Regions from separate parts of the Homo sapiens genome. Here region 2 is linked to region 1. The links come from fine-mapping of genetic effects on gene expression. A gene starts in region 1. The other region holds a variant in brackets. All regions are shown on one strand. Distances are between the middles of the regions. Region 1 holds the start of ITPRID2 (ITPR interacting domain containing 2). Region 2 overlaps ITPRID2 (ITPR interacting domain containing 2).

Evidence for each region. PIP is the estimated chance that this variant, and not a neighbour inherited with it, causes the effect. A credible set is the group of variants that fine-mapping cannot tell apart.
Region 2: its variant is the best candidate, but not a certain one, in a credible set for the expression of ITPRID2 in whole blood (INTERVAL, PIP 0.89).

Annotation. Positions count from the first base shown.
Region 1 is chr2:181,889,830-181,894,105 of GRCh38, forward strand. It overlaps ITPRID2 (ITPR interacting domain containing 2), which reads left to right and starts at 1,901. Exons shown (of 18, transcript NM_001130445.3): 1 at 1,901-2,448; 2 at 2,786-2,831. The coding sequence starts at 2,238. RefSeq lists silencers at 1,778-2,107, 2,398-2,537.
Region 2 is chr2:181,912,155-181,916,430 of GRCh38, forward strand. It overlaps ITPRID2 (ITPR interacting domain containing 2), which reads left to right. Exons shown (of 18, transcript NM_001130445.3): 10 at 1,691-1,779; 11 at 3,062-4,273. Among named protein-coding and RNA genes, the nearest start is that of ITPRID2, 23 kb to the left of the region's middle. The variant T/G (reference allele first, on the strand shown) is at 1,823.

The sequences.
Region 1 (4,276 bases):
GGGATCAGCATTTAAAAGTGTAAGGGGTGCAAGAATACTGAAGAATGTTCTATCATCTCTCACAATTTACAATCTGGCTAGTAAGCCAAACATACCTTCCAGGGCCAGTCATATTATTTACTCTACAATCCAGTCCCCAAATAAATGACATAGACATGCTGTTGTATATCAGATCCCTGTGGGAGGGGTGTGATCAGGAGTGGTGGAATGGTGGAGTCAAAAAGTTCTGGCTTAGCTAGATTTTGAAAGTCATGAAGGTAGTGGACAGAAAGAACAGGAATGAATTAATTAGCAAAGACAGAGTAGGCAACAGCACTTAGATATGATAGAATTGAAGCTGGGAGCAGCAGAGGAACAGGGTGGATACGTAAGAACCCTGGATAAAACTTTGAAGGCAGCATATTTTGTGGCACTTGACCAGCCCTTTCAATGCTTCTTCTTAGGTACCTTCTTTATTCATTCTCTTTTTCATCTTCCACACAGGCAGCGAGACTCTGACCTATTTTGGAGAGCCATTAAACTGTTAGCTGCATCCTACTACAGGACCCTTGAAGGCTGAGAAAGTCTTATAGGTTCAAAGAAAAGATTTTCTAGTAGTGAAATTTCAAGCCATAGAGATATTAATATCACTGTTCTAACTCCCCTGACATTTGGCAGTACATAGATGAGACTCAGGAGAATATTATGATGGTTCTGGAAAGCTAGTCTGGATTTTGGATTTGATCTTGGGGATATTAGTAAACCATTAGAAGATGTCTTGGAATTGTAAATCTAGAGCAATGCGCTAGAAAGGAGATAGGAAAGAATGAAGGCAGGAAAATCAGTGTGCTATTTTAGTAGTCTATGACTTATGTGTAAATGCCTGGACAAAAACTAGGCACTATTTCATCTCCAGAGCATTCTTCATTCCAAATTCTCCAAAAGTTATGGTTTCCTGTAGCTATCAATGACAATGCACTTAATTACCTTGTAATTCGAATGCTTCCATTAGGAATTTTACTATGCTCTGGATTTTAATTTCAAATGAAAAATAATTCCTTCCTTAAAATATTTTGTCTACGCAAAATATTCTTTTCAATCACGTTAAGATTTTAAAAAGTGTTCTAACTTGTTCTTCAGAGCATAGCCAAGTACAATAAAATATTGGAAGCCTTACTTATATGTATAGTTCAGATGTAACATTTAGGGGAACAATGCTGCTTGATAGGTCTGTCACATTGTGTCTGGTTTTGGATAGAATTTGAGTATTTTTGCTAATGAGAATTTAAACATAACAAAACGGAATGCCAAAGCTGGCTTTAAAAAGTTTTGAACCCTGACATCATTTGTTTCTTGTATCATGCTGTCTCACCAAAATCCAAGCAACTATCTCCACATTGTCCCAATTGTTTCCTCTATTCTCCCTCACCAAAGTCCAACTTCAATGTGAAATTTCCAGATTAAATATCCTTTCACAATTCATTTTCATTCATAACATAAACACGATAAATAACTTTAAGTATGAAAGTAGCACTCCAGGAAGCTTAGTCTTTTGCAGTTTTTACATTTTGGCAACACCAATCAAGCACCTCTTTCCGTCCTTACCCCAATTCCTTGGACACTAAAGAGTCTATATTCAGGCGACTCTTTCAAGTGTATGTTTCAGGGTGCCCAAGCAGACACTTGTTTTCTCGCGGGGGATGTTTTGTGAGACTTGGCCTCCCCACTTACGTTCTATTTTTAGGTGAGGGAGGAGGAGGAGGAGAGGAGGAAAGATTATTAACAAACTAATCTTGCCCATTCCGCGGGCAGTAGTCGGGGGCTGGCCTGCTCCGCGTCGCGCCGGGCGCGCCCCGCCCTACCGCGCCCCGCGCGGCCCCGGCCGGAAGGGGGCGTGGGCCGCCGCCGAGGGAAGGCGCGCAGACGCGCAGCGGCCGGCCTGCTCCGGGCGCGTCAGGCAGGGGGTGGGGAGCAGGGGCCGGGCGGGCGCTCGGCTCCCAGCCGCGCTCCCTCGGGCCACTAGCGCTCCCGCGCGCGCCCGGCCGCCTTCATGTGAAGCGCCGGCCCTCCGCCCCTTCCCTCCCCTTCCTTCCCTCCCTCCCTCCCTGTCCCCTCCTCCTCCTCCTCCTCCTCCGGCGCCCGCTTCAGCTCCCCGGGGCCCCCTGCCCGGCCGGGCGCTGACAGCAAGGGCGGGGGTCCCTGCCGCCGCCTTGTCTCGCGCAGGGTCCGGCTGGGGTAGCGGAGCCCCCAGTGCGGCCATGGACCGGCCCCTGTCGTCGTCGGCGGAGGCGGAGGAGGAACTGGAGTGGCAAGTGGCGAGTCGCAGGAGGAAGGCCTGGGCCAAGTGCCGCAGCTCCTGGCAAGCGTCGGAGACGGAGGATCTGTCCACAGAAGCGACGACGCAGGACGAGGAGGAGGACGAGGAGGAGGACCTCCCCGGCGCGCAGCTGCCGGCAGCGGGGGGAAGAGGTCGGTGCTCCCGGCCGGGCTCCGGGGGGAGGCTGGTGGGCTGGGGAGAGTCTCGTGCGCCCTGGGCGCCTGCCACGAGTTCTGGGAGAGCCTCGGGCACGGTAGGCCGAGGGGAGAGGGGACACTTCCGACCTTCAAACGCGCGCGCTGAACGAGGCGCCCCCAGCGTCAACACAGACAACTGGGTGCCATCCGATTTCCCTGCCAAGGGACACTGAGACGTGTCGCTTAGGCTGCATTTGCCGTGGTAGATTTTCCTACTTGGGAGGGTCCAGGGTGACTCCGCCGTCGTAGTGCTCCTGGGTGGTAACGTGCTGTCCCCTCTCTCTACCCCCAGGAAACGTGCCCAACGAGAAGATCGCGATATGGCTCAAGGACTGCCGGTGAGTGCTCCCTGGTCCGCCCGCGTCCCGGGGGAGATCCGTGCGGACGGGACGCCGGAGCAGAGCCACTCGGGCCGCGTCCCTGTGGGTCCCGCGACCGTTGTAAGCTACAAACCGGAAAGTGAGCCGGCGGATAGCTTCCTCCTCTAAGCGATTAGAAATGGAAGTGCTGTGACCGCTGATTATTTGGTGACCGTGTTGACTTTACAGTTAGGACTTGAGCTACTCACGCATCGTGTTAGCATCAGAGATCAGAAATCCAGAACAGATAATCATGCCATATTTGTTCTGTTTTTATTTGAAAGAATTCTCACATCTCGAACAGGATATTTTGTTTTGCTTTAGTTTTGGCATCTGTACAACTGGCACGGAATCATTTTCCTTTCAAATGTGTTTTAGACGAGTTTAATTTACCTAACTACACTAAATGGGCTTTAATTTTGTTTCTGTTTGGGGAGCTATTAAAACTAGCTAACTTTGTACTTATAGTTTACTTCTTGAACATGGAATTGTCAGATGGCACTGGAATTCTCAGGGAATAGAACTTTTAAAAGCATTCAGACTGCATAAATCTGTTTAATTACATGCTTTGGCAACTGGTACAAAAATGTTTGATAAAATACAGAGGAGATGAATCATGTTGCACGTAAATCTGACTACAGCAAAATGTACTTGTTTCTTATTCCACTTTGCTAGTTGTAAAATCAGGAATGTAGCCTTTAAACTTTTGTTGGTGTTTGCTTTCGAGCATATTTTTGCTTTCTCAATTTAGATTTTCTTAATATTTTGTTCAAATATTAGAGTTAGGGTAGTTTGTTTTGTTTTGTTGTGGAAAGTGATTCATATGCCAGTTTGCCTCCTCTAAAGACAGACAAGATATTGGCTACCATGATATTAATGCCTTGTTTTGATGAATCGACTGGAACCTTATTGAACACTCTTTATTACAGAACTCGTACCCTTTATTGGAAGTGTCATAGACCCTTCTGAAATATGATGACATATATGGAATAACTTCTGTTTAAAGATGCACAGAGGCAAATACACTGCTTGAAGTCCTTGGACCCCAGATTTACAATCTAGCTGTAAATCAATCTCCCAGTTTTCAGATAAGCCTTAGATATTAGATACTTCACTCAAAGTATGGATCAAGAAATTGTATTAATGTGCTATTGGTTCATTTAATTGTTAAATACTAAAATAGTCTATAATGTAAAAGCTTGAAATTTTGAATGTACATGTTCAAGACCTTTTGGGTGAGATCTGATAAAACTAGTATCTTTCAGGTTTCCACTTAGAAATGTGTTTGAGAAGTTGTTTTGTAACTTTTACTTAAGTCCTTTAAAGCCTCCAATCTGACTCTTTATTTAAATACAGTCCTAAGTACAGTATTGGCTTACTTTAGGTTTCTTAAAATAGGCTTAGCATTACAAATACATTTATAA
Region 2 (4,276 bases), 22 kb after region 1:
TTTAAGGAAATGGGTATCATTGATTGAGGTCAGCAAACATTTATTCTCAGCTTATTCTAGGTACTGGGATACAAAGAAGAATAGTTTCTGCCTTCAAAAGGCTCACAATCTAGTTTAAAGATATGAAAATACGTAATTATAGTGATAACTGCTATAGCATAAGATGTTAATCATTTTACCAAGAATATAATGCCTTATCAGTACTGGTGGTAACAGCTTATTGCAGTTCAGTTTCACAAGTATTCCAATTTACGTAGGCTTATCAAGGATATGGAATAATTCCTTATATTTCATTTTGCAGTCTTGTTACTATCAAAATGATATTACAAAATTATTCTAAATTTTTAATGGGAAAAATGTATTCCATGGAAACTGAGTCTATAGTGGGGTATTTTTCAAACCAAGTTGACTTTAATAGATTTTAAATTTTATTTAATTATATTATCTGGCTCTTTTTCTATGTGGTTCATATCTTAAATGAATATGGTTTTGGTAAACACACTTTATTTAGCCTTTTGCTTTTGAAGTTCTGCAGAACTTTGCTGTCTCTTGAAGCTTCTGCCTTGATGAATGTAAGAACTGTACAGTCTCTCCCATTGTGGTAGTTGTAGTGTGGATAGAATGTGAACATACTTGCTATGCTTAGTTGGCCTTTTTACTTATGTAAAACATTATAGATCATACTAACCAGGAATTAGAATTTTGAGGCAGAAAAATAAGCAGAAAGATTTTATAAGATTAACAATATTATGTTGTAGTTGAACCTATTTGGTTGAGTTTTATGTAATTTTTATGAAAGAATTGTTTCATACCTTATACATTTGCATCATTTAAAACATCATAAAACACCAGAGACATTTAAGTATGCTTGCATTTCAGATTATTTAATTTACTGGCCTTAATTGTATTTATTTATTTATTTATTTTTTTTGAGACGGAGTCTTGCTCTGTCGCCCAGGCTGGAGTGCAGTGGCACAATCTTGGCTCACTGCAACCTCCACCTCCCAGGTTTACTCCATTCTCCTGCCTCAGCCTCTCGAGTAGCTGGGACTACAGGCACCCGCTACCACGCCTGGCTAATTTTTTGTATTTTTAGTACAGACGGGCTTTTACCGTGTTAGCCAGGATGGTCTCGATCTCCTAACCTCGTGATCCGCCCGCCTCAGCCTCCCAAAGTGCTGGGATTACAGGCATGAGCCACCGCGCCCAGCCCTAACTGTGTTTTTTAAATTGGGAAGATAATAGAAATCTTTACACACTATGCTCTCTATATGAACTTCTAAATTTACCTCCTAAATATCTTTACATATTTACATAATGGAAATGGTTTACTTTGGGACTTCTGTTTTTATTAGAGCCATCTTTTACTTCAGTTTTCCTCCAAGGATAAAACATTGATTGGATTTACCAAAATAGATTATAATTAGAGCTTAATTAATGAGCGAATACCGAGAGATTCTAATAGAAGATCTGATACAGTTTTTGTTTGAATTTGAGTTACCTCCTGTACTTTGAAGACATAATTTTGCATAAGTAATGCATATTTTTCTAAGAAGCAGTCAAATATTGTGTATCTTATATCTGCTGGGAATCATATCTCTGTAGTAATATTGCTCTCAGTAATTTCTTATAGCCACTTTTTTTATTTATAGATCATCTGTTTCTTATAGCCACATTTTTTTATTCATAGATCATCTGTTACGTACTGCAAGTCAGCATTCCGATAGCAGTGGTTTTGCTGAAGATTCTACAGACTGCCTATCCCTTAATCATCTTCAGGTAAAATTTTCTGTTCTAATAGGCACTATGATTAACTTCCTCA[T/G]TTTAAGGTGGTTTTTGTATTACTATATATTTTAATATTGAGTCTGTATAATCTTTATTTTTCAAGTGACAGAACAAAACTCCTGGCATGTAGATGTTATCTAAGCATTTGACTATAAATTTTAGATTTCATTAATTCTTCTCTCTGAATATGTTTTTAAAAATATCTATCTTCCCCTTAATTTTTGGACCACCAGTAAACAGAGATTATTGTGATCATTAACCTGTTTTGTCTGTTGTTTTTCTTATTTTTTTAACCATCATTATATTTCATTATTTTACAGTAATTGTTTTGCCTATTTAATAACTGACATTAATTGTGGACCTATAGCTTGCTGAGTGTTATACTGATTTTTACACTAGGTTGTGTGAGATAACCCAGAGAACAGGCACATCTTTATCCCCAAGAAGCATATAGTCTATATGTAGAGTACACAGAATGCACAGAAAAAGCATTTGAAACATTTTTTAAGCAAATTCTAAAGAAAATTGGGATGAGAAAACTCCCAAAGAGCCTTTAGGAACATAGCATTTAAGGGGTAAACAGACAAGAGGCATATGTAAGTTCACTGAGAAAGAGTAATTAAGTGAACAGAAACACTGGGAGATGGAGGAGAAACTTTCAGAAGGTATGGAAGAAAAGATAGGAATGTTGACTGGTTTTCAAATATGAATGATAGCTTAAGAGTGAGGGGTCTTTTTGTCCTTTTATAATAACATGAAATGACTTGGGGAAAGTGTTCAGCTAAGGGAAATAACCGTAAGAGAAGAACTGATTCAGAAAAATCCGGGCTGAAACTGGAGAGATACCCTGGTCTTGGAGAGGATATGATCAGGAACCCAGGTTGGAGGGATTCGCTTTGAGTTTCCTTTCAGAATGGAGAGAAGGAGGGAATGATGGGGAGAGATACAAGGAAGTTTTTAGATGTTGGGGAAGAATGTTAGGAAGTGTTTGTCCATTTTCTCTATGAGTCAGTGTGTTGTATTGAAAGGAAAGGGGGAGGTTGTTGGAAAGGGAATTTTAGGAAAACAGTGAAGTTCTGAAATAATCTTTGTGAGAAAGTGAGAGGAAGGAGGGATGTGGTTGCTGCTCAGGAGCAATAAAACAATTTTGAGCAACAGCAGGGCCACAACTGCAGTGGAGACAGTGAAATTATAGAAGCACCATGTTGGTTTGGTATTTTGTTAGTGACTCTTCTTACATATATTCTTCATCTTTCCACCTATTTTCTTTTCACAGGTTCAGGAGTCCTTGCAGGCTATGGGGAGTAGTGCTGATAGTTGTGACAGTGAGACAACAGTTACGTCACTTGGTGAAGACCTTGCCACACCAACAGCACAAGACCAGCCTTATTTTAATGAATCAGAGGAGGAGTCTCTTGTCCCTCTTCAGAAGGGACTAGAGAAGGCAGCAGCAGTTGCAGACAAAAGAAAATCAGGTAGCCAGGATTTCCCTCAGTGCAACACCATTGAGAATACAGGAACTAAACAGTCCACCTGTAGTCCAGGGGATCATATCATTGAAATTACTGAAGTGGAAGAGGATTTGTTTCCAGCAGAGACAGTAGAGCTACTGAGGGAAGCAAGTGCTGAAAGTGATGTGGGTAAAAGCAGTGAAAGTGAATTTACTCAGTATACCACACACCATATTCTGAAATCATTGGCTTCTATTGAAGCTAAATGCAGTGATATGAGCTCTGAAAATACAACTGGGCCTCCCTCTTCCATGGACAGAGTTAATACAGCTTTGCAAAGAGCTCAAATGAAGGTTTGCAGTCTGTCTAATCAAAGGATGGGGCGTAGCCTGCTAAAATCAAAAGATTTGTTAAAACAAAGGTACTTATTTGCAAAAGCTGGCTATCCTCTAAGAAGGTCTCAGTCTTTACCAACCACCTTATTGAGCCCAGTAAGGGTTGTGTCCTCTGTCAATGTTCGATTATCTCCAGGAAAAGAGACCAGATGCAGCCCACCTTCCTTCACCTATAAGTACACACCTGAAGAGGAGCAGGAATTGGAAAAGCGGGTGATGGAACATGATGGTCAGTCTTTAGTTAAATCGACCATTTTCATCTCTCCATCATCTGTGAAGAAAGAAGAAGCCCCCCAGAGTGAGGCGCCGCGGGTGGAGGAATGCCATCATGGAAGGACTCCTACCTGTTCACGGCTTGCTCCACCACCAATGTCTCAGTCTACCTGTTCCCTTCATTCCATCCACTCTGAGTGGCAAGAAAGGCCCCTGTGTGAGCACACAAGAACTCTGAGCACTCACAGTGTTCCCAACATATCAGGGGCTACTTGTAGTGCCTTCGCTTCCCCTTTCGGGTGTCCTTACTCACATAGACATGCCACCTACCCTTACCGAGTGTGCTCTGTGAATCCTCCTTCAGCCATAGAAATGCAGTTGCGAAGAGTATTACATGATATTAGAAACTCACTGCAGAATCTTTCACAGGTA